Regions from separate parts of the Homo sapiens genome. Here all the other regions are linked to region 1. Evidence: fine-mapped expression QTL. A gene starts in region 1. Each other region holds a variant in brackets. All regions are shown on one strand. Distances are from middle to middle.

The links. PIP is the estimated chance that this variant, and not a neighbour inherited with it, causes the effect. A credible set is the group of variants that fine-mapping cannot tell apart.
Region 2: its variant is the best candidate, but not a certain one, in a credible set for the expression of LRP6 in whole blood (INTERVAL, PIP 0.68).
Region 3: its variant is the best candidate, but not a certain one, in a credible set for the expression of LRP6 in spleen (GTEx, PIP 0.64).

What each region holds. Positions count from the first base shown.
Region 1 is chr12:12,263,398-12,271,838 of GRCh38, forward strand. It overlaps LRP6 (LDL receptor related protein 6), which reads right to left and starts at 3,647. Exons shown (of 23, transcript NM_002336.3): 1 at 3,284-3,647. The coding sequence starts at 3,338. RefSeq lists enhancers at 1-477, 3,654-4,290, 3,828-3,877 and a silencer at 3,338-3,647.
Region 2 is chr12:12,316,491-12,324,931 of GRCh38, forward strand. No RefSeq gene overlaps it. Among named protein-coding and RNA genes, the nearest start is that of MANSC1, 30 kb to the right of the region's middle. The variant A/G (reference allele first, on the strand shown) is at 4,102.
Region 3 is chr12:12,121,433-12,129,764 of GRCh38, forward strand. It overlaps LRP6 (LDL receptor related protein 6), which reads right to left. Exons shown (of 23, transcript NM_002336.3): 20 at 5,259-5,489; 21 at 3,864-4,000; 22 at 3,133-3,230. Among named protein-coding and RNA genes, the nearest start is that of MIR1244-4, 14 kb to the left of the region's middle. The variant G/A (reference allele first, on the strand shown) is at 2,012.

The DNA of each region.
Region 1 (8,441 bases):
ACCCCGTCTCTACTAAAAAATACAAAAAAATGAGTCCCAGCTACTCAGGAGGCTGAGGCAGGAGAAAGGCGTGAACCCGGCAGGCAGAGCTTGCAGTGAGCGGAGATCACACCAATGCACTCCAGCCTGGGCAACAGAGCAAGAATCCGTCTCAAAAAAAAAAAAAAGAATGTGTGAATCTGCACCTGTAATCCCAGAACTCCGAGAGGCGGAGGTGGGAGGATCACTTGAGCCCAGGAGTTTAAGACCATCCTGGGCAACATAGCAAAACTCTGGCTCTATAAAAATTAGCCAAGTGTTATGGCACACAACTGTGGTCCCAGCTACTTGGGAGGCTGAGGTGGGAAGATCACATGAACACAGGAGGTCCAGGCTGCAGTGAGCAGCGATCATGCCACTGCACTCCAGCCTAGGCAACAGAGCAAGACCCTACCTCCAAAAAAAAAATAGGAATTCGTGAACCTGGCCAAGCATGGTGGCTCACACCTGTAACCTGTAATCCCAGCACTTTGAGAGGATCACTTGAGGCCAGGAGTTGGAGACCAGCCTGGGCAACATATCAAGACACCCCCACACCAACCCCATATCTACAAAAAATTGGGGGCATAGTGGCACGTGCCTATAGTTCAGAGCTTTGGGAGGATGAAGCAGGAGGATCACTTAAGCCCAAGACTTTGAGACTGCAATGAGCTGTGATTACACCACTGCACCCCAGACTGAGTGATGAAGCAAGACTTTGTCTCTTTAAAAAAAAAAAAATTGTGAACGTTATACAAATTAAATCTCAAATCATGAAAGCATTTGAGGATATGTCCCTGAACAAGCAAAAATTATAGCAAAAAGTAACATTAACAAGGTACTCCATATTATTTCATTTAAAACACCCAATAACCCTGCAAACTAGTCAGGTATCATTATCCACACTACCAGTAAAGAAACTGAGACCTAGAGAAGCGGACTAGACCAGAACCACAAAGTTATGAAGTTGTGACACTTGGGCTTTAAATCCAAGATTTTAGTATTGAAATTCCCAAATCTTTCCTTTATACCTTGTCATGTGATGATAGAGATAGGGACACAGCACTAACAGTATTCCCTGGCTTTCTGCTACTAATTCAACAGGGCTACAGGACAGAAGGTCTCCCAGACTCTCACATACCCCATCACACCCAGCCAATGTTAAAGCCCCAATTCTTTGTGGGGGAAAAAAATGACCTAAATGCAACAAATCAATCAGATTTTTCTCCTTGGAGTCCAAGGTTGACTAAATATCTTTACTATAACAGAGGATGACATTCTCAAAGAATGAATTAATTCTAAATTATGAACAAAAATATTTTACATCAAAAGACAGTTTTACTTCAAATAATATGTACTCACAGCTAAGTACAGTACTGTTACATATTAGAAGACCACCTTACACCATATTTCGCCACATTTAAAACGAGAGCTCCACTTCTGAAAACTTTGCTAGTGGAAACGAGACAATTTAAACTATTACCTCTTCCAGGTCTTGTTACATAAATAAGTGCAACCTATCTAAATTCCAATAATGAACAAACCCAGCTCTGGTCTCAAAGCTGGTGTTAAACAAACGGCATTTACATCACACGCTTCTCCTCCAAGAAATACAACTAGACAACCAGAAACATCCCAAGTTATAAGTTTTCCCACGACTCTAACCAATCAGCTGGTTCTCATATTTGTCAGCCCTATTAACCTTATGTCTTAAAATACATACATATTCTTATGTCAAATATAGTTGTTTCTAACAGCTACAGCAAAACCCCTTTCAATAGAGTATGCCAATAATAAAATAAGTATATACTTATGAAACCTCTCCAGTACGTAACACTTCATTAAAATTTCTGCCACAAAAATCTAATGAACACTACCTTTCCGGGGTTTACATGTGGGAAAACTTTGTAATATGCTTAGAGTATCAAGTAATATAACATGCAAACACAATGCTGCATTACTACAGAGTAACTGAAGAAAGTATTTCTCCTCCTCCAAAAAAAAACTCAATCATTCTCATCCGAAATACATATACACAGTACACGCAAAAATATACACCTGTCACAGACTATTAGTTACTATTAGTGTTCTGTAAACTTAAATTAGTTTGGAGAACTTAACAAAAGTTTAGCTTGTTAACACCTAAAAATCTCCAGCGACCAGCGGTCACATGCCTGAAAAGAACTTACTATGAACGCCAGTAAGAACTTTACCAAACCAAAACTACAAGCCACCGTATCGAGCAGTACTTAAATTCCTCTGCTGGTAAATGCTCCACAGCCATCACAGCCATCTCAAGTTCAACACTAAATAGTTTGAGAAGAGCTGCCGACGGGCCAGTCAAAAATCTTTGTGAACTGTCACAAAAGTCACAGAGCATGTGTCAGCTTTGCAGTCCAATTCAAAACATCATAGTGCCATCGAATTCAAGCGATTCCCAGAGCAAATTATCTCGAACAGCCTATGCAATTTACCAAAGTGCCAAGCAGTCCCCAGGGGTGCAGAGCAAATTATCATTTTGGTCCCAGGACCGGCTCCTCTTCACACGAGGATGAATTTCCCTACTTAGTGCCAACTGTACACTTGCATACTCCGAAAATAGGGGCAAGCCGTGAATACCAGAGGTTACAAGGGCAATGTTTTATTTTATTATGGGCTGAAGCTCAGAAGGCTCCCAATGCTGAAACGCTCGACCTATAACCCCGGAGTCACTTTCCAACTGCGCTCTCACCCAGGGTCATTATATCCCAAACGGAAGCCAATCATTACCTGTAACAAGGCCTGGAAAAAATAGCAAGAGGGCTTTAAAAGTTCACCTAAGAAACACCGAAACGGGGTGGGGAGTGGGTGGCGGGGCTTCGATGGATAAGGCCAACCTTAAAGCATCTCGGACTCAAACATTTTAAAAGCCAAAATACGTACAAAGACCCTTTTCCCTGGAAGACCCCAGGCAGAGAGAGGCACACAGACACTCAGTCATCCCGACAGCATGGGGTGCCAAGGGTTCCCTAAGACCAGCAGCCGGGATCGAAGCTCCGATGTGTCCGGGGAAGGTCTGGGAAGCCAGGCCAGGTCCGCATTGTGGCCGGGCGGTGCACGCAGCCCCTGCTCCCGGGCCCCTTTCTCTCCCCCTCCCCACGACCAGGCCTCTCCCCGCTCCTCTCCCCTTCTCCCTTCCTCCGTCCCTCCCCTCCCCCTAGACACATACAACAAGGCCACCTCCCCCCGAACCCCACCAACTTTCCAGTGCCCCCACTCTTCCCACCTCTCAGGAGCACACAGAAGCTGCAGGCCAGGAGGCTCCTCAGGACGGCCCCCATCTTCCCTTCTCGCGTTCTCTTCTCTCACCGGCGAGGGGTGGCCAGAAGTGGGGGAGGCGAGGAGCCGGGGCGGCCGCCGCAGCGGCAGGGCTGCACGCTCATACTTCCCAGCTTCCCAGCGAGAGAAGAAAGAAAGGGGCACGTCAAGGTTCCGCGCGCGCCGCCGCCGCCCTCTCTACCGCGCCGCTCGGCCCCGGGCTCGCGCGACGCCAGCGTCTGCTTCCATCCCGCCGCCTCCTCCCCCGGCGCCCCGCTTCCCCCGCGCAGCTCCTCATTCAGCCTCTGCCTCGCGCAGCGGCGCAGGGATACGGTCGGCACCGCCTCCTAGGGTCGCCGCGACCGTGTCCCTGCGCGCAACGAGCCCCTTCTCCCGGTACTGCCTCCTGTACGGCCAGGGAAGGGAGTCGGCAACCGCACGCACAGCCTCTGCCTGAGACCCTGGGAGAGGTTCTGGGCTAGCAGAGGCGAACTGGGAGGGAAAGCCTCCTCCCGGTGGCGCATTCCAGCGGGATTCTTTCCCGGACCGGCCGCTTCGGCCCTCCCCGCGGAGGGCGTGAGGCGGCGTTGAACAACATTGGAGCCGGCGTGGTCGGGACTACTTTCTGCGGCTCGGCCGGGCAGCCGTCTGCCCCGCTCTTTGTGCGGCCGCCGCCGGCAGGGCCAGGTGGGGCTCCGGTCTCGCGCCCCCAGCCACCTGAGACTGCCCAGCCGCGGTGCACGCGCGGGGAGCCACGGCGGATCCCGTTGCGGGGTGATGAGCTCCGTCTTCGGGGTTGGAAATCGGTTTCAGCATCCTTTTTTTGGGAGGGCGGAATTTTTGAACGCTGTTTACACCGGCTTTCAGCGTGGATCTGGTGAACGATATTAAAACGCCAATTCAAAACTGAGATTGTCATTTTTCTCCCGCCTTCCCAGAAATACAAACTGCCCCCAGAATTAAGCCCGACCAGCTAAAGATTTCTAAACTGGCAGATAAAATTCCAAGATAAATGCCTCAAAACCTAAGAGCAAAGGGACAATTGGACAAGACTATTTAGGATTTTACAAGTTGCATATAATAACGAATGTTTGGCATGCTTCGATTATCAATTCTCAGCTTGAGAAGGAAAAGATTCCCTAGAATCTCAGACTGTGCACAGCCTCTGCTACTCCCAGTGCATTGGGCATTCAGGAGTAATGGCCCAGACGCCCCCTGAAATCACCTGCCAGGCTTTCGTCTGGGCAGAGGCGCTCCAACAGTTAACCCTAATGGAGCCATCAGATGCATCCTGCCCAGCTGTCACACGCCCTTACCTGGAGGCAGATGGGCAAGAAAGTGGAGCTGCTACCACAATGTTAACAAGTACCTCAGTGACATTGGAGTTCACTAGTGCTTGAACACAAGTTATCATATTTGACACTCAAAACTACCCTGGGGAAAGGCAGGTTTTGTTACTTATTCTTTATTGCACAGAGGAGCAAAATGAGAACCTGAGAGGTTAATGACTTACCCAGGGCCACTCAAGTAATGAATAGCAGTACCTCAGCCCAATCCAGGTCTCTGACTTAAGCCACTCCGCTCCTTCCAAGAAATGCGCGCTGAACCAAAGGTGCTGCAGGTTTGTAAGTAGATGGACAGCAGAAACAGCCAAATCACTTTCTCCCAAATTCACCTGAGGTCTAGTCACCGTTTATTTAAATGACCTGCTTCTAAGAACCAAGTGAGTTTTGTATTCTGGCTTCCTCAAAGCAGGAAACTGGGCCGGGGGCGGGTGGCTCAGGCCTGTAATCCCAGCACTTTGGGAGGCCGAGGCGGACAGATCACGAGGTCAGGAGTTCGAGACCAGCCTGGTCCAACATGGTGAAACCCCCGTCTCTACTAAAAATACAAAAAAAATTAGCCGGGCATGGTGGCACACGCCTGTCATCCCAGCTGCTCAGGAGGCAGAGGCAGGAGAATGGCTTGAATCCAGGAGGCGCAGGTTGCAGTGAGCCGATATCGCGTCATTACACTCCAGCCTGGGCAACAGAGCAAGATTGCGTCTCAGAAAAAAAAAAAAAAAGAAAAGAAAGTTAACCTTCACTTTCACAGGCCCCTTCCAATGTCTGGGGAGGGGCCTTTATGGTATGTTCACATGGTCCTATTTGCAAAACAAAGATAATTTTGAATTCCTCTTCTGTATAATTGTATTATACAAAATTGTATAAGCTTCAAGTCCCACAAAGCCTGGATCTGTCCCTATTTATAATAGAAAATGCGGTACAACTGGCCGGGCACGGTGGCTCACGGCTGTAATCCCAGCACTTTGGGAGGCCGAGGCAGGCGGATCACGAGGTCAGGAGATCGAGACCATCTTGGCTAACACGGTGAAACCCCGTCTCTACTAAAAATACAAAAAATTAGCCGGGCGCGGTGGCGGGCGCCTGTAATCCCAGCTACTCAGGAGGCTGAAGCAGGAGAATGGCGTGAACCCGGGAGGCGGAGCTTGCAGTGAGCCTAGATAGCGCCACTGCAGTCCAGCCTGGGCGAAAGAGCGAGACTCCGTCTCGAAAAAAATAAAATAAAATAAAAAAGAAAATGCGGTACAACCTAAATCTCCTCAGACTATCAACCTAAGTAGGGGAATGAGATATTACACACTGCTGAAAAATAATAATTTAGAGGATTATGCAACAGTGTTGAATGTTTATAGTGAGTTAAGCTTTTTTTTTTTTTTTTTTTTTTTTTGAGACGGAGTTGTGCTCTTGCTGCCTGGACTGGAGTAAAATGGCACAATCCCGGCTCACCACAACTTCCTCCTCCCAGGTTCAAGTGATTGTCCTGCCTCATCCTCCTGAGTAGCTGGGATTACAGGCATGCGCCACCACACCCAGCTAATTTTGTATCTTTAGTAGAGACGGGCTTTCTCCATGTTGGTCAGGCTGGTCTCGAACTACCGACCTCAAGTGATCCGCTCTCCTTGGCCTCCCAAAGGGCTGGGATTACAGGCGTAAGCCACCGCGCCCGGCCGAGTTAAGCTTTTAAAAAGTGAAAGTGCATGTACATTTGATTATAGCTATGTAAAATAAAAATATATATAATATACAAACATAAATGCACACACATATATATAGCACATATTTGAGCAAAGACCAAAAGTAAGTGCACTAAAATAGGCATTAGGATGGTGAAATAATATGAGATGTAGTTTGCTTTTCTGTTCTTCAATTTTGTTTAATGTACTATATATTTACTACAAATTTTTAAAAGATGCTTAAGTGAAAATCTATAGGTTAAGCTTAAGCCCTAGAGAGAATGCCATTATTACTGCATAACTAATTTTGTTTCTCATTCTTTTAAGTGCCAATCAGATACCAATCACTCTGTTAAGTGTTGGGGATATAAAGATGAGAGTAATCATAGTCCCTACCCTCAAGAAGCTTACAGCCTAGTTTGGAAACACTGATTAATAAAGTGAGTAATTAAAATATTAAAATCTGCAGGGCACAGTGGCATACAACTGTAATCCCAGCACTTTGGGAAGTCAAAGTGGGCAGATCACTTGAGCCCAGGAGCTCGAGACCAGCCTGGGCAACATGGCGAAACCCCATCTCTACAAAAAATACAAAAATTAGCTAGACATGGTGGCGTGTACCTGGAGTCCTAGCTATTCGGGAGGCTAAGGTTGGAGGATCACTTGAGCCTAGGAGGCCAATGCTGCAGTGAGCTGTGATCTTGCCACTGCACTCCAGCCTGGGCAATACAGTGAGACCCTGTCTCCAACTAAAAAAAAAAAAAAGACAAAATTGCTAAGTGTAGAGATGCTTTTCTGCCTAGACAATTCAAAGAAGGGAAAAAAGGGCCAGGCGCAGTGGCTCACAACTTTAATCCCAGCTACTCACGAGGCTGAGGCACAGGAATCACTTGAACCCAGGAGGCGAAGGTTGCAGTGAGCCGAGATTGCGCCCCTGAACTCCAGACTGGGCAACAGAGTGAAACTCTGTCTCAAAAAAACAAAACAAAACAAAACAAAAGAAGGGAAAATAACCCTAGCGCTGAGGTTGGAAATACAAATCAGACTTTGCCAGGCCAACAAGACTGAAAAAAAATTTCAATCACAATAGTAGGTTTAAAGACACTGAATCATTAGAGAACTTAGTATGTTGGGGATTTGAAAGTAGATTCATATAGCTGATGCATGGAATGCTTTTAGAGAATGTCAGGAATTGAGGCAGGACCATTAAATAGCTATTGATTAATAAAAACCTTTTCAAGCCATGCTAAGAAGTTTAGATTTTAGCATATTAACAATGCGGACATTGAAGAATTTTGCACATTGTACAGAAGTCTATGAAAGGGGCAATCAGGACAGCAGCGCTGAGGACTGAAAAGACATCATGGATTTAAAGAATACGAGATTAAAACAGGACTTTTAGTTGTGAATTGAGAGAGAAACAGAGAGTAATGGGAGTCTCCTTTACAAAGAAAAGAAAACCTAAGAAGTATTTCAAGAAGGAGTGGGTAATAAGTTTAACAATGGCTCTTTTGTATTGGAGGTGTCTATGAAACATCCAGGTGGAGGCCGGGCGCGGTGGCTCACGCCTGTAATCCCAGCACTCTAGGAGGCCGAGGTGGATGGATCATCTGAGGCCGGGAGTCCGAAACCGGCACGGCTAACATGGTGAAACCCCATCTCTACTAAAAACAGAAAAATTAGCCAGGCATGGTAACACGTGCCTGTAATCCGAGCTACTCAGGAGGCTGAGACAGGAGAATTGCTTGAACCCGGGAGGCGGAGGTTGCAGTGAGCCAAGATCACGCCATTGCCACCCAGCCTGGGTAACAGAGTGCGACTCTGTCTGAAAAAAAAAAAAAAAAAAAAAAAGGCCGGGCGCGGTGGCTCACGCCTGTAATCCCAGCACTTTGGGAGGCCGAGGTGGGCGGATCACGAGGTCAGGAGGCCCAGACCATCCTGGCTAACACGGTGAAACCCCGTCTCTACTAAAAATACAGAAAATTAGCCGGGCATGGTGGTGGGCGCCTGTAGTCCCAGCTACTCGGGAGAATGAGGCAGGACAATGGCATGAACCTGGGAGGCGGAGGTTGCAGTGAGCCGAGATTACACCACTGCACACTCCAGCCTG
Region 2 (8,441 bases), 53 kb after region 1:
ATAGTCCCAGCTACTTGGAAGGCTCAGGTGGGAGGTTTGAGCCTGGGAAGCGGAGACTGTAGTGAGATCGCGCCACTGCACTCCAGCCTGGGTGACAGAGTGAGAGCTTGTTTCAAAAAAAAAAAAAATACACACACACACACACACACACACACACACACACACACACACACATATATATTTGGTGTTATAAATATTTTTAAAGTAACTTTTATGTTTTTTCGTTTTGTTTTTTTGAGACAGAGTCTTGCTCAGTCGCCCAGGCTGGAGTGCAGTGGCGCGATCTTGGCTCACTGCAAGCTCCGCCTCCTGGGTTCACACCATTCTCCTACCTCAGCCTCCCAAGTAGCTGGGACTACAGGCGTCCGCCACCACGCCCAGCTAATTTTTTGTGTATTTTTAGTAAAGATGGGGTTTCACCGTGTTAGCCAGGATGATCTCGGTCTCCTGACCTCGTGATCCACCCACCTCGGCCTCCCAAAGTGCTGGGATTACAGGCGTGAGCCACCGCGCCCGGCCTATGTTTTTCTAATTATAAAAATATGTGAGTTTTCTGTAGACAGCATGTAAATACAGAAAAATATCACCCAGAGTCCAATAATCCCTAAATGGAGAATCACTGGGAACAGTTTAGTGTATATAGTATGTTTAAGCTGTACATACACATAAACACAAAATTGTGAGCATTCTCAGTATGGTTTCATGTACTGCTATTTCATTTACTATTACCCTGCTAGCATTTCCCCTATCATCAAAATTCTTTGAAAATATGTTTATTAACTGTATAATATTTTATTTTATGAATGTACTGTGAATTATTTAATCCTCTTCAGAGACTCAGGTTGATTCTACTGATAATTGTGCTGCAACGAGCATACTGTGCGTTCATTTCTATGTGGAATTCTATGGCCTTAAAATAGAATCCTAGCAGTAGAATCACTGAGATAAAGGGTAAGAGTATCTAAAGCAGTGGCTAATGAAGTTTTAGTTTTAGGACCCTTTACATTCTTATGTGTTTTTTCTTTTTTTTCTTTTTTTTTGAGACTGAGTCTTGTTTTTTTTTCTTTTCTTTTTTTTGAGACTGAATCTTGCTCTATTGCCCAGGCTGGAGTGCAATGACACGATCTCAGCTCACTGCAATCTCCACCTTCCGGGTTCACGCCATTCTTGCGCCTCAGCCTCCCAAGTAGCTGAGATTACAGGTGCCCGCCACCATGGCGGGCTAATTTTCATATTTTTAGTAGAGACAGGGTTTTGCCATTCTTGGCCAGGCTGGTCTCAGGTGATCTGACCACCTCGGCCTCTCAAAGTGCTGCCCGGCCCTTTTTCATTCTCAACTATTGTTGAAGACCTAAAGAGATTTTGTTTATGTTGGTTACAGCTATCAGTATTCACTATATTAGAAATTTAAAATAAGAAATTAAAAAAATATTTATTACTTCATGTTAAAATAGCAATAAGGAACCCATTATTTTTGAATAAACAGAGGAATTAACGAGAGGTTGAAGTCAAGTATGCTAGTTTCCTGCAGAGGCCCAAAGAAATTCCCGTTTCTGGTGATTCCATTCACAGAGACTGAAAACAGAGGAGCAGGGGAGTGGGCAGGGGTGGGCCTTGGTGGAGACAGAGATGGGAAAGAGGGTGAGTCTGTAAGAGTCTGGCATTCCTCCTACAGGACACGTGGGCATTTTCAAGACTCCAGTCCACTAGGTGGATCTTCAAAGGCTTATGCCACATTCTTCCATAGCACACTTCTAAAATACCTGTTTTATAGGGTTTAAACTATCTGCTTTATAGGGACCAAGTGTGGTGGCTCACGCCCGTAATCCCAGCACTTTGGGAGGCCGAGGCAGATGGATCACAAGGTCAGGTGTTCGAGACCAGCCTGGCCAAGATGGCAAAACCCCGTCTCTACTAAAAATACAAAAATTAGCCGGGGCCAGATGCAGTGGCTAACGCCTGTAATCTCAGCACTTTGGGAGGCCAAGGCAGGCGGATCGCTTGAGGCCAGTAGTTCAAGACCAGCCTGGCCAACACAGTGAAACCCAGTCTCTACTAAAAATACAAAAATAAGCCAGGCGTGGTGGCGTGAACCTGTAATTCTAGCTACTCGGGATCCTGAAGCACGAGAATCGCTAGAATCCAGGAGGCAGAGGTTGCAGTGAGCCAAGATTGCACCACTGCACTCCAGCCTGGGCGACAGAGCAAGACTCTATTTCAAAAAAAAAAAAAATCTGCTTTATAGGGTCCTTTTACAAACTATTAGGCCACTTATCCTCAAAACCAAACAATGCAATAGGGTAGACAGATAGGAACTCGCAGGCTGTTCACAAGGAAACTGAGGCCCTGAGAGGTTATGTGACTTGTCAGTCTTCCCACCTCCCTTTTGCCCATCTTATAATAGACTCATGTCTGGAACTCAATTGTCCTGATTGCTAGCTCGTTGTGCCCAGTGACTCAAGAGAGTGAAAATTGTTGGTTCAGCAGTCTATCTTCTAAATTTGCTTCTTCTAAAAGTATTTAAAAGGTATAAGAAATATAAATTACTCCCTAGGCTGCTAGGCAGGCACCTGGTTTTCTCCTGGGGTAGTCAGAACCCTCCTATCTTTAATTTTTCACGGATGAATATACCAACAGTGAACAATGGCCAGACCATGGGGAATAGAACTGAGTCTCACAAACTTTGTAGCAACCAGCTGGGGAAGCCAAACCACTTGGCTTCCAACTCAGCACCGACCAGAGAAAGCCAAAGATGCTCCCCAGACTAATCACCGAAGATGCCCTGCTTCATTTTTTTTTTTTTTTTTTTTTTGAGACAGAGTTTCGCTTTGTCACCCAGGCTGGAGTGCAGTGGTGCGATCTTGGCTCACTGCAACCTCTGCCTCCCAGATTAAAGCAATTCTCCTGCCTCAGCCTCCCTAGCAGCTGGGACTACAGGCACGCACCACCATGCCCGGCTTATTTATTTATTTATTTATATTTTTAGCAGAGACGAGGTTTCCCTATGTTGGCCAGGCTGGCCTTGAACTCCTGACCTTGTGAGCTTCCCACCTCAGCCTCCCAAATTGCTGGGATTACAGGCGTGAGCCACCGCACCCAGCCTGCCCTGCTTCTAAGCAGTCCATCTCCCACTTCCTCGTGCCAATAAGCTCCAATCCAGATAAACCTGAAGCCTTCCCTTTTTGTCACTGTAAATTCTCTCACTCCTCTGCCTGCTTTGACCTTCTGCCAAAGTGATGGAAGCTGACTCCCATAGCATAGCAAGCTCTGAGTAAATAGCCCCTGTACTCATTTATTTCCACACCACTGAATGAATAATGAAAGATGTTATAAAGCCAAATTATGAAAAGGGCATCAGTTATTAAACATTTGTAAAATGTTTTACAACCATCTTAGTATGCCTCATAAACACCTCGTGAAGTGCTGCCATCCCCGTTTCAGAGCTGAGAAAATTGAGAAGGAACCATGAGATTAAGTGACTTGCCCAGAGCTATGATGAGAACATGAGCCCCCCAGGGTTTGAGGTCTGTTGTTTATCCACTGAGCTTGAGCTGCGCTTTGGAATCATTACCATCTTAAAGCATTTTACCCTGTGTTGGGTGAATATTAAGAAGTAGATCACATTTCAGCCTGGCAGGCGCGAAAGTATTGTTTTTAGTTTGTTTTTCTAAATTTTAGTAGAGGACATATGGGCTCTATTAACTTTACTATGTAGCACAATTTGAAAGATAGTTTCTTTTCCAGCAAATTTTTCACCGTAATTTAACATTTTAAAATTCAGCACACACCGTCCTCCCTGGATACTTGTTTTTCTCAGAGTTGGGCCTTTTTCCTCTCCACTGCAGCTTGGAAGGTCGTAAATCCAGCCAGGGGGATTTTATTATGCCTGGGGACAGTTTTCAAAGTTAGGTATGAGTGGAAGGAAGGGAGGGCGGGTGCAACAGCGCTGGACAAAGTCCGTCTAATGCAAGACTTTCCTTTCTTTTTTTTTTGTTTTTAAAGATAAGAACTTTTTTGGCTTTCTCCCCGCAAAGCTTGCTGATGATGTTGACTGATGAGGACATGAAAAAAGCTGAGATTTGCAGAACATAACTGGAGCAT[A/G]AGAACGCCTGTCTGGAAGGCAGGGGCTGCTGGGAAAGGATCTCTCTGGAGCTCCTTGCTGGCTGCAAAAATGCAGCTGTCCCTATTCCTCTCTACTCTGGGACATTTAAAAAGGAGGCTGTGTGGCAGTAGCATTTGGCTTGTGTGCCACTGTACCTGGTCAGCCTGGCATGGAATGCCTTAGTGGTTTGTTAGGGGTCACTGACTGAGGCTAAATAAATTTAGCACCATGTATACTTTCATTAAATATTAAACAATGAGGCCAAGCACGGTGGCTCATGCCTGTAATCCCAGCACTTTGGGAGGCTGAGGTGGGAGGATCGCTTGTGGCCAGGAGTTTGAGACCAGCCTGGGCGACATAGCGAAACCCTGTCTCTACAAAAAATTTAAAAAATTAACTAGGCATGGTGATGCATACCTGTAGTCCCAGCTACTTGGGAGGCTGAGGCAGGAGGATCACTTGAACCCAGGAGGTCACGGCAGCATTGAGCTCTGATCATAGCACTGCCTCTGGCCTGGGCAACAGAGCAATACTCTGTCTCTAAAAGAGAAAAACAAACAAACAACAACAAAAAAAAACACAAAAAGACAATAACATTCAATTGTTTGCTAATGGTTCATCTGCCCAATCTCTGGAATCCTGTCTTTCACCTACTCACCTTCACTCACTTAGAAACTTATGCATTGGCTTCAAATACTATTTCTTCTATATTATCCTTTCACCTTTCTTCTTTAAAAAAAAATTTATTTAGAGACAGGGTCTTGCTAGGTTGCTCGGGCTGGCCTTGAACTCCTGGCCTTAAGTGATCCTCCCACCTCTGCCTTCCATCTTTTTATCTTCTTCAGCTTATGAAAATGGATCCATCTGCATTAAAGGCCTAAAAATGTATGTAGTCAGGTGAGTGTTGTGATAGTTGGTGTGATGGTTAATACTGAGTGTCAACTTGATTGGATTGAGGGATACAAAGTATGAATCCTGGGTGTGTCTGCGTGGCTATTGCCAAAAGAGATTAATATTGGAGTCAGTGGGCTGGGGAAGGCAGATCCACCCTTCATCTGGTGGGCACAATGTAATCAGCTGCCAGTGAATATAAGGCAGGCAGAAAAACACGAAAAGGAGAGAGACTGGCCTAGCCTCCCAGCCTACATCTTTCTCCCATGCTGGATGCTTCCTGCCCTCAAACGTCGGACTCCAGGTTCTTCAGTTTTGGGACTTGGACTGGATCTCCTTGCTCCTCAGCTTGCAGACAGCCTATTGTGGGACCTTGTGATTGTGGAGGTTAATACTTAATAAACTCCCCTTATGTCTGTCTGTCTATCTGTCTGTCTGTCTATCTATCTATCTATCTATCTATCTATCATAGGATATATATATATATCTATTTATATTAGTTCTGTCCCTCTAAGAGAACCCTGACTAACACAGTTGGTGAAGGTTTCCTTTTCTCCTCTGATGATGTGAGTGAAGCAGGCTTTCAGGGATTATGAGAACAGGCGAAGTCTTCAAGGAGATGGGCCCCTCAAACACAGCCTGCACATCCCATCCATCTCCCCATTCTCCTGGAAGCCATGCCTTGGAAGGCAGAGGGGATGCTGGAGGGATGCAGGTCTCAGGGCCTGAGAAGTTGAGGGTGGTTCTAGATAGAGTAGAGAATGAATGGGATAAGGGGCAGTAGAGGCCTGACCTCCGAGAGATCTCACCACTCCTAACTTTGACTATTCCTGTCTGGCTGCATTTGGGTTTCCTTTTGTCCCAAGAAAAGAAAGACGAAAAACCTTAGAGTGTTGGGAGTCTAGATATGTTAAAACTAACAGATGTTAGTTCATTGATCACCAAGACAATGCACGGGCCAGTAGGACTTCTCACAGCAAAAAAGCCAGGATGGAGAGGCGGAAGACCAGGTTGGGCAGATCCTTCAGCTTTCAGCTGTTTTTCTCATCCTTTATAGCACTGTAATTAGGACTAGATGAGGAAAAAAAGATGGGCATGAGCTGTAGCTACAGGGGGAAAACAATAAATGACTAACAGATAAAAAAAATGTAAGTGAAGTGCTAATATTCCAGTCATTTAAAATATTGCTGGGAAGACCAATTATCCGTGTAAAAAAGGTGAAAACAAATATAACATTGCTTAGGTAATTCTGTGGACCCTTGATACACAGTATTTGCATAAAATCAGAATTACAGAATTTAGTGTTTTGTGGTTTTTGTTTGTTTGTTTTTTGAGACACCTGGGTCCGGGGAGGTGGAGGCTGCAGTGAGCTGTCATGCCACTGCACTCCAGCCTGCACAACAGAGTGATGAAAGAAAGGAAGGGAGGGAGGGAGGGAGGGAGGGGGAGGGGAGGGGAGGGGAAGGGGAAGGGAGAAGGGAGGGGGAGGGGAGGAGAGGGGGAGGGGAGGGGAGGGGGAGGGGAGGAGGGGGGGGAGGGGGGAGGGGAGGAGAGGGGGAGGGGAGGGGGGAGGGAGGGGAGGGAGAAAGAAAGGAAGGGAGGGAGGAGGAGGGGAGGGGGAGGGGAGGGGGAGGGGAGGGGAGGGGGAGGGGAGGGGGAGGGGAAGGGAGGGGGATGGGAGGGGAGAGGAGGGGGAGGGGAGCGGGATGGGAGGGGAGGGGGGAGGGAGGGGAGGGAAGGGAGAAAGGAAGGAAGGAAGGAAGGGAGAGAAAGCAAGGGAAAGAAGGAAAGAAAGAAAGGGAAAATAATCAAAAATATAAGAACACAAACAAAAGCACATTCTGTCAGCTCATCCTCTCTATAGGCTAAGGAAACTATACTATCTGAACCCAAAGGAGAGAAATAAACAAAATCAAATACTTATCTACCCATCCCTCTGCACACGGTCTTAGTTGAAGTGAGAGTATACACTTCATTACTGTGTACCTGGATTTTATCCCATTCTGCTACAAAATGCACGTCAGTGCGTTCACTTTCACTGCATGATATAGAAGCTGTTCTGTATGCAGCCAAATCACATTACTGCCCATTGCTGAAAGAAATGACCTTCAATGAACGGGTTATAAAATTCACTCATGATCACTTATTGAATGCCTATGTGCCAGACACACTGTTAAGCATGATGGAATCAGAGAAATGTTGCTGTCTAACGTATCCCAGTCTAGTGGGGTAATATATAACCTGATACATTATGATTCCATGGAAGTGTTTCACTAATGGTATAAATCACGAGCTGTGTCAGAAACCCAGGAGGAATTGATACGTCTCCCGGGAGAGTGTGGGGAGACTCTGGTGGAGGTGACGTGTGATCGTGGTCTTGAAGGATGAGCGGAAATTTGCCAAGTGAACAAGGGGGAAAGGAATTTACAAGTAGAGGGAAGAGGATGGCTCGTCAAAGTGTCTGGCAATACTGAGAAATGTTGAAAAGGGTGGTGTAGCTACAGCCCAGGTTTCACGGGACAGAGGTAGCTGCAGTGTGGTTAGGTTGGGGCTAGTGCATGGGGAGCCTTGGTACACCTGCCACGTGCAACTGGTAATCATCCCTAGAGGTACTGGGAGCACAGAGTGTCATGCGTGGAGTTACATGTACTGTGTGCTGTGCTTTTAATGTAACTTGAAGTCGTAAGGAGGGAATATATGATGTGGGAGCAGAGCAAGGAGAAGCAAGTTAGGGAGACCAAACAGGAGGCAGCAGTGGGGACGGCTGACTTTGAGAGGCGTCTTTGAAAGACAATAGGTAATATTTGGTAGACATTGGATGTGGAGGCTGAGGCAGCAGGAGAAACAGAGTATGACTTTGAAGTTGCTCAATACAGGAGATACTGGGTGGCTGGCGGTACTATTAACCCAGATGACAGGACACGGAAACAGGATGGGTTCTCTGCTCCGGCGTGTCCCTGAGGAGTCACTCTTAACTTTGGTACAGGTGATCAGCAACTGGGAAAGTGTATGAAGCCCACTCCAGAATGAGACCACTGACCTCTTCATTTCCATGCTTTCGGCTCAAGGTATCATTCGGCTCAACACCATTTAAAAGCTATCTAGGCTGGGTGTAGTGGCTCACACCTGTAATCCCAGCACTTTGGGAGGCCGAGGCGGGTGGATCACTTGAGGTCAGGAGTTCAAGACCAGCCTGGCCAACATGGTGAAACCCCATCTCTACAAAAAAATTAAAAAATTAGCTGGGTGTGGTGGTGGGTGCCTGTAATCCCAGCTACTTGGGAGTCTGAGGCAGGAGAATTGCTTGAACCCGGGAGGCAGAGGTTGCAGTGAGCTGAGATCGTGCCACTGCACTCCAGCCTGGGTGACAGAGCAAGATGCCGTCTAAAAACCAAAATAAAAAGCTATCTAGGGGCAGGCTTATGCCTGTAATCTCGACACTTTGGGA
Region 3 (8,332 bases), 140 kb before region 1:
GAAAATAAAGAGAAGCAGTTAGTTTTACAAAAAAAAATGATTTCCCCTCTCAGAATAGAGGTATTAGATGTCAACTACCCTATGAAAACAATAAGCTACTGCAATTTAAATTTACACAGACCAAGAGGCAATTTTCAATGGCAGATTCGCTGAGGAAAATAGCAGGTACTTTCTTATTTGCAAATAAGAAAGTGGCAAGTGAAAATGAACAGGATGGGAATGCAGAGGTGAATTCAATCTAGCCTCTGGTTGTGCTCTTACATCTTCAAGTTAAACTGTATCACAGAATAAAAAATGACTATTCAAATTTGTTCTGCAGTTTCATAGCCCATGGGAAGAATGGGTTTTTACATATTTTACACTACTCAAACATGTCAGCATTCCCTCAACATTCTTTACTCCAAAATTAACCTGATGAATAATTAATTTAATGACATCTGAAGTCTTCATTTCTTTCTTCTGTACAATTCTGTACAATTTCTGTACAGTCCAGGCTGGATTTTGGTAGACAGCCTCAGGGGCATAACTATTCCATTGTTGTTATCTTAGCAAAGGGAAATTGCTGTGATTGGGGGAAACGGTTTTCATTCCCTGTGTATAGGTAAGTACCTCTCATAAGAGCAGCTTTAAACATCAAAATGATAAAATTTAAATGCCCATAAAGGGTCAGTGAATTTTCTAATGTATATTTCAGAGGCCTAGTTTATTTCTTACACTTGTTTATCTTTACAAGTGACATACAGTTGTTAGGTTTGTAGCACTGCTAACTAAAGAAAAAGGCATTGGAAAGAGAGAAACATACTAGTGAAAATAAGATCTGACCTAAGTTCTGGCTTTTCTGTCATTCCTACTTCTATTTTTAACTTCTTATACCTGTTTATTCTAAATATGGTAAAGCTGATCTTAAATTTATCCCAAAGATTTTTTCATAAGCTTTCTCATCAAAGTGACTACAAGAGAAGGGGAAAACCAAGTTAAAAACTGATACAACGATTCATAAAACACCTAGTGATACAGAGCACCACCAGGTAATATATCCCAGGAACCCAGGATACAAACCATTTGATATCACTTGGCTTGCTTCAAAAGAAATGGCTGCCAGATTGTTCACAGTCACAGATCAAATTCCTTGTTCTACTCTGTCTCCCCTTCTTACTACTGCATTTGATTAGTCTTTAAAAAAGAAAGAAAGAAAGAAACCAGCCTGGGCACCATAGCAAGACCCCGTCTCTACAAAAAATAAAAAAAAGCTAGCCAGGCGTGGTGACACACACCTGTAGTCCCAGCTACTTGGGTGGCTGAAGCAGGAGGACTGCTTGAGCCCGGGAGGTGGAGACTGCAGTAAGCTGTGATTGTGCCCCTGCACTCCAGCCTGGGTGACAGAGCAAGACCCTGTCTCAAAAAAAATAAAAATAAAAATAAAAAGGGTGCAAGGCTGCCAGAGACCAAAAGTTATATGACCCACTGAGTGAGTTCTCAAAGGCTTTTACTATCAATACTGACATGATGTCACAGTTTGTTTTGTTTAACTCTTTGTCCAATCAGGTGTCAATCCTTGGTGAAATTTCTAAGGTCAACATTTAAAAGTCCAAATACTTCTATTTTCATGAAAAAAAAAAAAGAAAACAAACTGAATTAATAAAATTTTTTCATGTCCCAGTTTAAACCAAAATCTCAACAAATGATGTAAGTTTTGACTCAGAGGAAACAGAAATTGGGCTTATACGGAAAATAGTTAAGCAAGAATAGTTTTTTATGCAATCGTGTTTATTCTGATGAGTGCCTTAGTCAATTTGAATTAAGGACATTACTTTTAAAAAATAAAATTTTGTATCTTTCTCCTTTCTCAATTTTCAGGCTTCTGCTTTTTCTGTTTTGGCTTCCTAGAAGAAGAAACTTGTGGCAGGGAAAGCAACATTACAACATATCATTAAAACAATCAGTTCACAGCCAAGGCTATTTCAGTCTTATCTAAGCTGAAATGAGAATTCTGAGTGAGATACTTTAAGTG[G/A]TTTCCACTTCATTTCTACACATGGGTGAGGTCGTATCAGGCCAATTTGACTGAAATGCTAGGAAAGATAATAGAAGATTATCTAGAGAGGATAGAAGATAGAAAAGATTATCTAGAAGATAACAGGCACTTGAGGGATGCCCATGAACCCTGGGCACTTCAGTGTGTAGATAGAAACTCTCAAGCTACTGATGGTCTGTTGGCCTTTCAAGGAACATAGAAGTGGAAGCTGACACAACAGTACTTGACCTGCTCAACACACTTTATAGACTCATAAATTAGCAAAAAGGAATAATTTTCTCTTTTTTGGCTTACAAATACACTTTATTTATTTCAATCTTTCTTTATTCCATGCAACTACATGAGAAATCTTTCACTCCAAATTGTAATAGCATATGCAAGCAATGGCTGAACTTACATTTCTCTCAACTTTTCTAAAATTCTGTGCTCTGAGTATGTTGCTGTTTTAAACTCTCAATTCTATGAACCAATCTTATCCCAATATTTCATTCTTAGAATATCAAACTATTTTGAAACCAGTCACTTTGGTGGGTAATTCCTCCTTAGAATACTGCCAAAGCCTGAGGCTGTATTTTATTATTATAAAAGCCAGCATTTGTGACTCTCTTAAAAAAAAAAAAAAGTATAGGCCAGGTGTGGTGGCTCACACCTGTAATCCCAGCACTTTGGGAGGCCAAGGCAGGCGGATCACCTGAGATCAGGAGTTCGAGACCAGCCTGGCCAACATGGTGAAACCACGTTTCTACTAAAAATACAAAATTAGCTGGGCGTGGTAGCGCAGGTCTGTAATCCCAGCTATTTGAGAGGCTGAGGCAGGAGAATCGCTTGAACCTGGGAGGCGGAGGTTGCAGTGAGCTGAGATCATGCCATTACACTCCAGCCTGGGCAACAAGAGCGAAATCCATCTCAAAAAATTAAAAAAAAAGTATAACGTCCTGAAAGGAAAGGATTTGTGGTAGAGGCAATGTCAGTACTATCAAGATAAGATGACTAGTCTCTCTCTGGTGACCATCGTCTACTCATTTGGGGCTATATCAGGTCCACAACTGAAACACTTTCAATAAATACTGCACCTTATTTTAGAGAAGGATGTGTATTACCTGTATGACCTATGAGTGGAAGGACTGTTTGAAGAATATCCAAATTCCATAGTGTAATGTGATCGCTCTGTGGCTGGGGATGGTGGAGGGTTCAAAATCTAAAAGAAAAAAATAATTAAAATATTAAAATAACAACATAGAAACTATCAGACTTTCTTTCAACTTTTCTTCCTTCATCTCTATTAGTGTTTCTTTACAATACACTATTAGCACAATTCTTCTTTTCCAAAGAATTGACCTCAAACAGTACTTTGGGACTATGGCTTCCTCATTCCCTAAGACCTCATCATGGCTAAAAAGTGCAAAGTGACAAAAACGAAAATCTGTAACCTAAAAATCATTGGTCAGTACATTTAGGTCCTGGTTATTTAAAATAGTAAGTATTTAGAGAAAAATTATTGATTTAGGAGAAATTCCAGGTGTGCTTCCTCTTTTGGGAAGTCATAAAATGAAGGCCCTAATCCCTCAATAGGTACCATTCAGTAGTTCTACTTTTACTTGAAATGTGAAATTAATGCCCAGTGCTTTCAAGTATTCTGGTTACTACACAGTAACTTAAAAGATTTATAAGCATGGATGGTGGTGTGTGGTAAGTCCTTTGAGCCTTTTATGCCTAAATTTTACATTCAAAAACTACTTTTACATTACTATCACTGATCACCCACATTTAAATGAGTTAAAAAATCTAAGATCTTATGTATGTCGCATTCAAAGGAAAACAGACTACTTACTGCAGGGAAGTAAGTGCCTTTGGTGCTTGAAGAACTACTTGATGATGCTCCTGTAACATGGGCTCGGTCATAGGGGGGTCCACTGCTTCCCCCCATGATACTGAGGGAGCTGATCATTGATTTACCTCGAGACATTCCTAAAATAAAAGGAGGTTAAAAACTGAAGATGAGTATGATATATAAAAATGTATCAAGCAATTTCATTCAACAGTAGGATTACAAATATCAACAGTGAAGTAGTCTGATTTTAAAATAACTTACACTCTTTTCCTATAATTGAAAACATTTAATGGAGAAAGGAAATGAACGTTTTCTAGAAGTCAATGCTTCCATTGAAAGAGCTGGCCTAGAACAAGGCCAAGAATAGCTCCCACCTTCTCCCTCCCCTGGTAGAAGCAGAGCTATTTAAAATAAGGGCTTTTCAACCTCTTGGAGGATTTGAAAGGATTGTAAAGGGTAGAGGTTGTGAGGCAGGGCATATTAAATACCAGACTTGCTCAAAAGAAAACAAAAAAACATTTTTAGGGCACAAACAACATATGAAAGAATATTTTTTCATCTAATGAATATAAATGTTGCTAGAATCAAAACTACCAGTGCTAAAGAAAAAATTCTATTTTTTCCAAGAAGCTTCCCAAATTCCACTAACTGAAAATAGGTATGGCAACAAAGCAACACTACCATTAACAGTTTAAAAACCATGTTTGTCTACTTAAGAGTTACACCCATAGTAAGTTCCTATTTTCAGAGGGTTTTTGCAAGGCACCGCCTTCTCCATATTCATTAAAAGGAAGGCGTCTTTTAACTAAGGGCACCAGAAAACATTAAAAAGAAGGCCAGTTCCCTAGAGCAACACGGCCTACCCAAGCTTAAAACTTCTGGCTACTCAGCTATGCCTAAACTAGCCCTTTGTCCCTTATTAGCACATGAAGTCAGGAGAAAACTTAAGACATATTCTCCCTTCTATCATCCAGCTATTTACAAATCTTTGTTGGCTGAAGGGAATCTTATATAATTTTTGGCCTCCTTTTATTCATGGGCTCCATAGTACTAGAGTTCCCTGGTGGTGAACTTAACCTGTGGTTTACAACTCTTTCACTAAATGACTGGCTGATTCACCTTCCGTAGCATGCATCCAGAATTGCAGTCAGAGAGGCTTAGAGCTTGCATATGTATTTGCTTTATATGCTTTGACAATTTCTACCAAACCATATCTAAGGCCTTCTGTGTAAAGAGAAGGTGCTAATAGTAAAAAAGAACGTTTGTCCTTATAATTGTTTAAACTCAGAGTAATATGGTTTCAGACAGACTCTAGGTAGTATTCTTTTCCACAATGGAAACTGGCAGTCTTGCAGGACCAAAGACTTGATTCTCAATGGATCCATCCTGACTCACCTGGAAGAGATCCTGACAAAGAACTTGGGTGTGGCACATAACCAAGAGGCACAGAAGCTGGTCCATGAACTACATAGTCATTAGTCATAGTTTCCCCATCTCCCTTCATACGTGGACACAACATCCTCTGGCAGATAAAGTATACAGTTCCAGACACAAAAATGGTGACAATTACGCCAATAACAGAACCAACTGTATTGGTGGCCTGTGGTGCTGGTTCTTCAGTCGGATCTACAATGAAGAATGCAGTATGGTTATTTAATAGAAAAACAACTGTATATTCAAAATAGTAATCAAAAGAGGGCTTGCTAATAGGATGTGAAGCTATAAGCCTAATGAAGATAATTCATAAACACTTTTCTTTTTTATGAGTACATACATACCACGCCCTGAAGACATATGAAATAAATGTCATCATTAGGAATCAAAATGAACTACCCTTAAATGAAGACAGAAATAAAACAATAGGTTGGAAAGTGTAATTGTAAACAGATAGAAACAAAGATGGTAAATGAAGTACAGATTTAAACACCATTAAGAAGCTTTAAATAAATAAACAGATAAAATCCATTCTACTTCATTCTATATACCATACAAATGAACAACGGTATTCCAAGATTTCGGGAAAAAATTTATGACCAGAAGGGATAAACCTAGAAAAGTCATCAAATGTTTTACCTGGAATGGTGAAGAAGCCAAAATCAGCTCTGAGCACATGTTAGATTTTAGATTTGAATAGTGACATTTAGGCCTGATGAATGAAAACTGGAAGCTAAAGATAAGCCTCAGCTCTCAAATCCCCTATGCTGCTGGCCTTCAGGCTGTCTAGTTGCCTGAGACCAAGGAACATAAGGTCTTTAATACCTGATTACTGGAGGACTCACAAAGAAAGGCCACATTGCCAGAAGAGGACACCACCCCAGGGATTCACCTTCCCTGGATCCCTGAGCTACCCGTTTAAGAAGCAGAGGGCATCAATATCAGAGGTAGAGGGAAAGTGAGCTTATTGAAATTAGAGCATTACTGTCTCTATTCAGAGGGAAAATTCTTCCATTCTGAACAGTTAAATTTTATCTCACAGTTGCAGATCCTTTAAAAAACTTCCTCCTGCTTCATCTTACCTCAAATCTCCCATCCATATAGCTAAACTCATCCTCTGACAGATTATATGAAAGAAATGCGTGAAAATGACATCTCTAAGTTACATAATATGTAGGGATTATCATTTACAAATTTAGTCTGTGGAATCTGAAGCATAGACTCTTCTTAGTCCTTGAGAACAACCGTCTCATCTTTTCATTCCTTTTTAGTCCCCTAACATTCCTTTGCAATGCCAAGCTTCAGGAAAGAAAAGTTTACATTCACTACCCTCAATCCCTAGCCTCTGGGTCACACCATAAACTCCCTGAAATCAGACTTCCACCCTCACCACTGCACTGAAACTTTTCTGTCAACAGTCAAAGTTCTACTATTTGCCATATTCAATATATTCATTTCACTAACCTCTTTACACAATACTGCTGGCTCCTGTCTTCTCTTTAAAAAAAAGTCTGATCAATATTCTTCCAAGATACCACTCTCTTAATTTTACTATTTCTGATTATTCTTTCTCTGCTTCCTTTGTTGGCTTCATTCTCTTCTGCCTGCATCTTAAGTGCAGGTGCTTCCCAGAGAGATTTCTATCTATCACCTACTATTTTCCTCCTCTTCTTACTGTCCTGGGAGATTCTATCTACTGTCACAGCTTTCATTATTATCAATAAACTAATGAGCACCAAATCTCTCTTCTGAGCCACAGTTCCTTATAATCAACTTCCTGAAGAGCTTCAGTGGGATATTCCATGAGTACCTCTCAGGCAACATATCACAAACTGAACTCACTGTCACCATGATCAGTCATTTCTCCTAGATTCCAGGGGTAAAGACACCATAAATAAAGTCATCTAGTATAAGATAATAAAAAGTGATGGGGCTTGTGGCAAAGTACACGCCTGCCTAAAGGCATTTAATGTAAATTAAACATCACATCAATCAAACATTACATCTGCAGCCAAGATGTGGTATGGTACTTTGGTTTTCAGTTCCTGCTATATATCCCATTTAATGACTCCAGTCACTCAGTGAGGTACCTGTGGGTCAACTTAAACTTATCAACTATAGCTAAGTGGTTACCAATTCCTCTTTATTCTACTTCTGAAACAACTCCGAAATCTGTTCTCTCCCTGCCACCCCCACTCCTCCTCCTCATGATTTAGATCTTTATCATCTTCTGCCTAAACTCTAATCGCTTCCTTTTTAAATTACAGGCTGCAAGTCATTCGTAAATGGTGAGAATGATTTAGTGGGTTACAACCAGCTTTGAAAAAATAAAACAGAAAATGTCAGAAAGTGTTCTATATAACATGGGTAAATATTTAAGTGTTGTGTGACACCTTTTTAAATGCATGAGCTCACATCTCTGTATTCCTCTTGATGCGATCAGAAGTTTGAAAGCAATCAATCTAACAGATTTCCCTGCCTATAAGCTTATCACCTCCAACCCACTGGCTTTACAACTTCTGTATTGCTTGACCATGCTAGTCTTTTTCTTGAAATTTTCAGTGACTCTCCACTCCCCATTGTTAATATTGTCTAGGCTCTTTAGAAGAAAAGCATAGTCCTCCATGATTGTACCTTTACCTATGTTATCTCTTGCTGACACCCCTCAACAGAGCCTGTATTTTGGCAGTCCCATTACATGGAGTTTCCCAGAGGTGCCTGTTTCACTCTTTTCTGCTTTTGAACAGTATATTCCCTCTGCCCAAAATGAAATTTCTCCAATTATCTACATGATGAACACTATTCATTGATCAACACCCAGTCTTTTTTTTCTTTTTTTTTGAGATGGAGTCTCGCCCTGTCGCCCAGGTTGGAGTACAATGGCACGATCTCGGCTCACTGCAACCTCCACCTCCCGGGTTCAAACGATTCTCTTGCCTCAGCCTCCTGAGTAGCTGGGATTACAGGTGCCCGCCACCACGCCCAGCTAATTTTTGTATTTTTAGTAGAGACGGGGTTTCACATGTTGGCCAGGC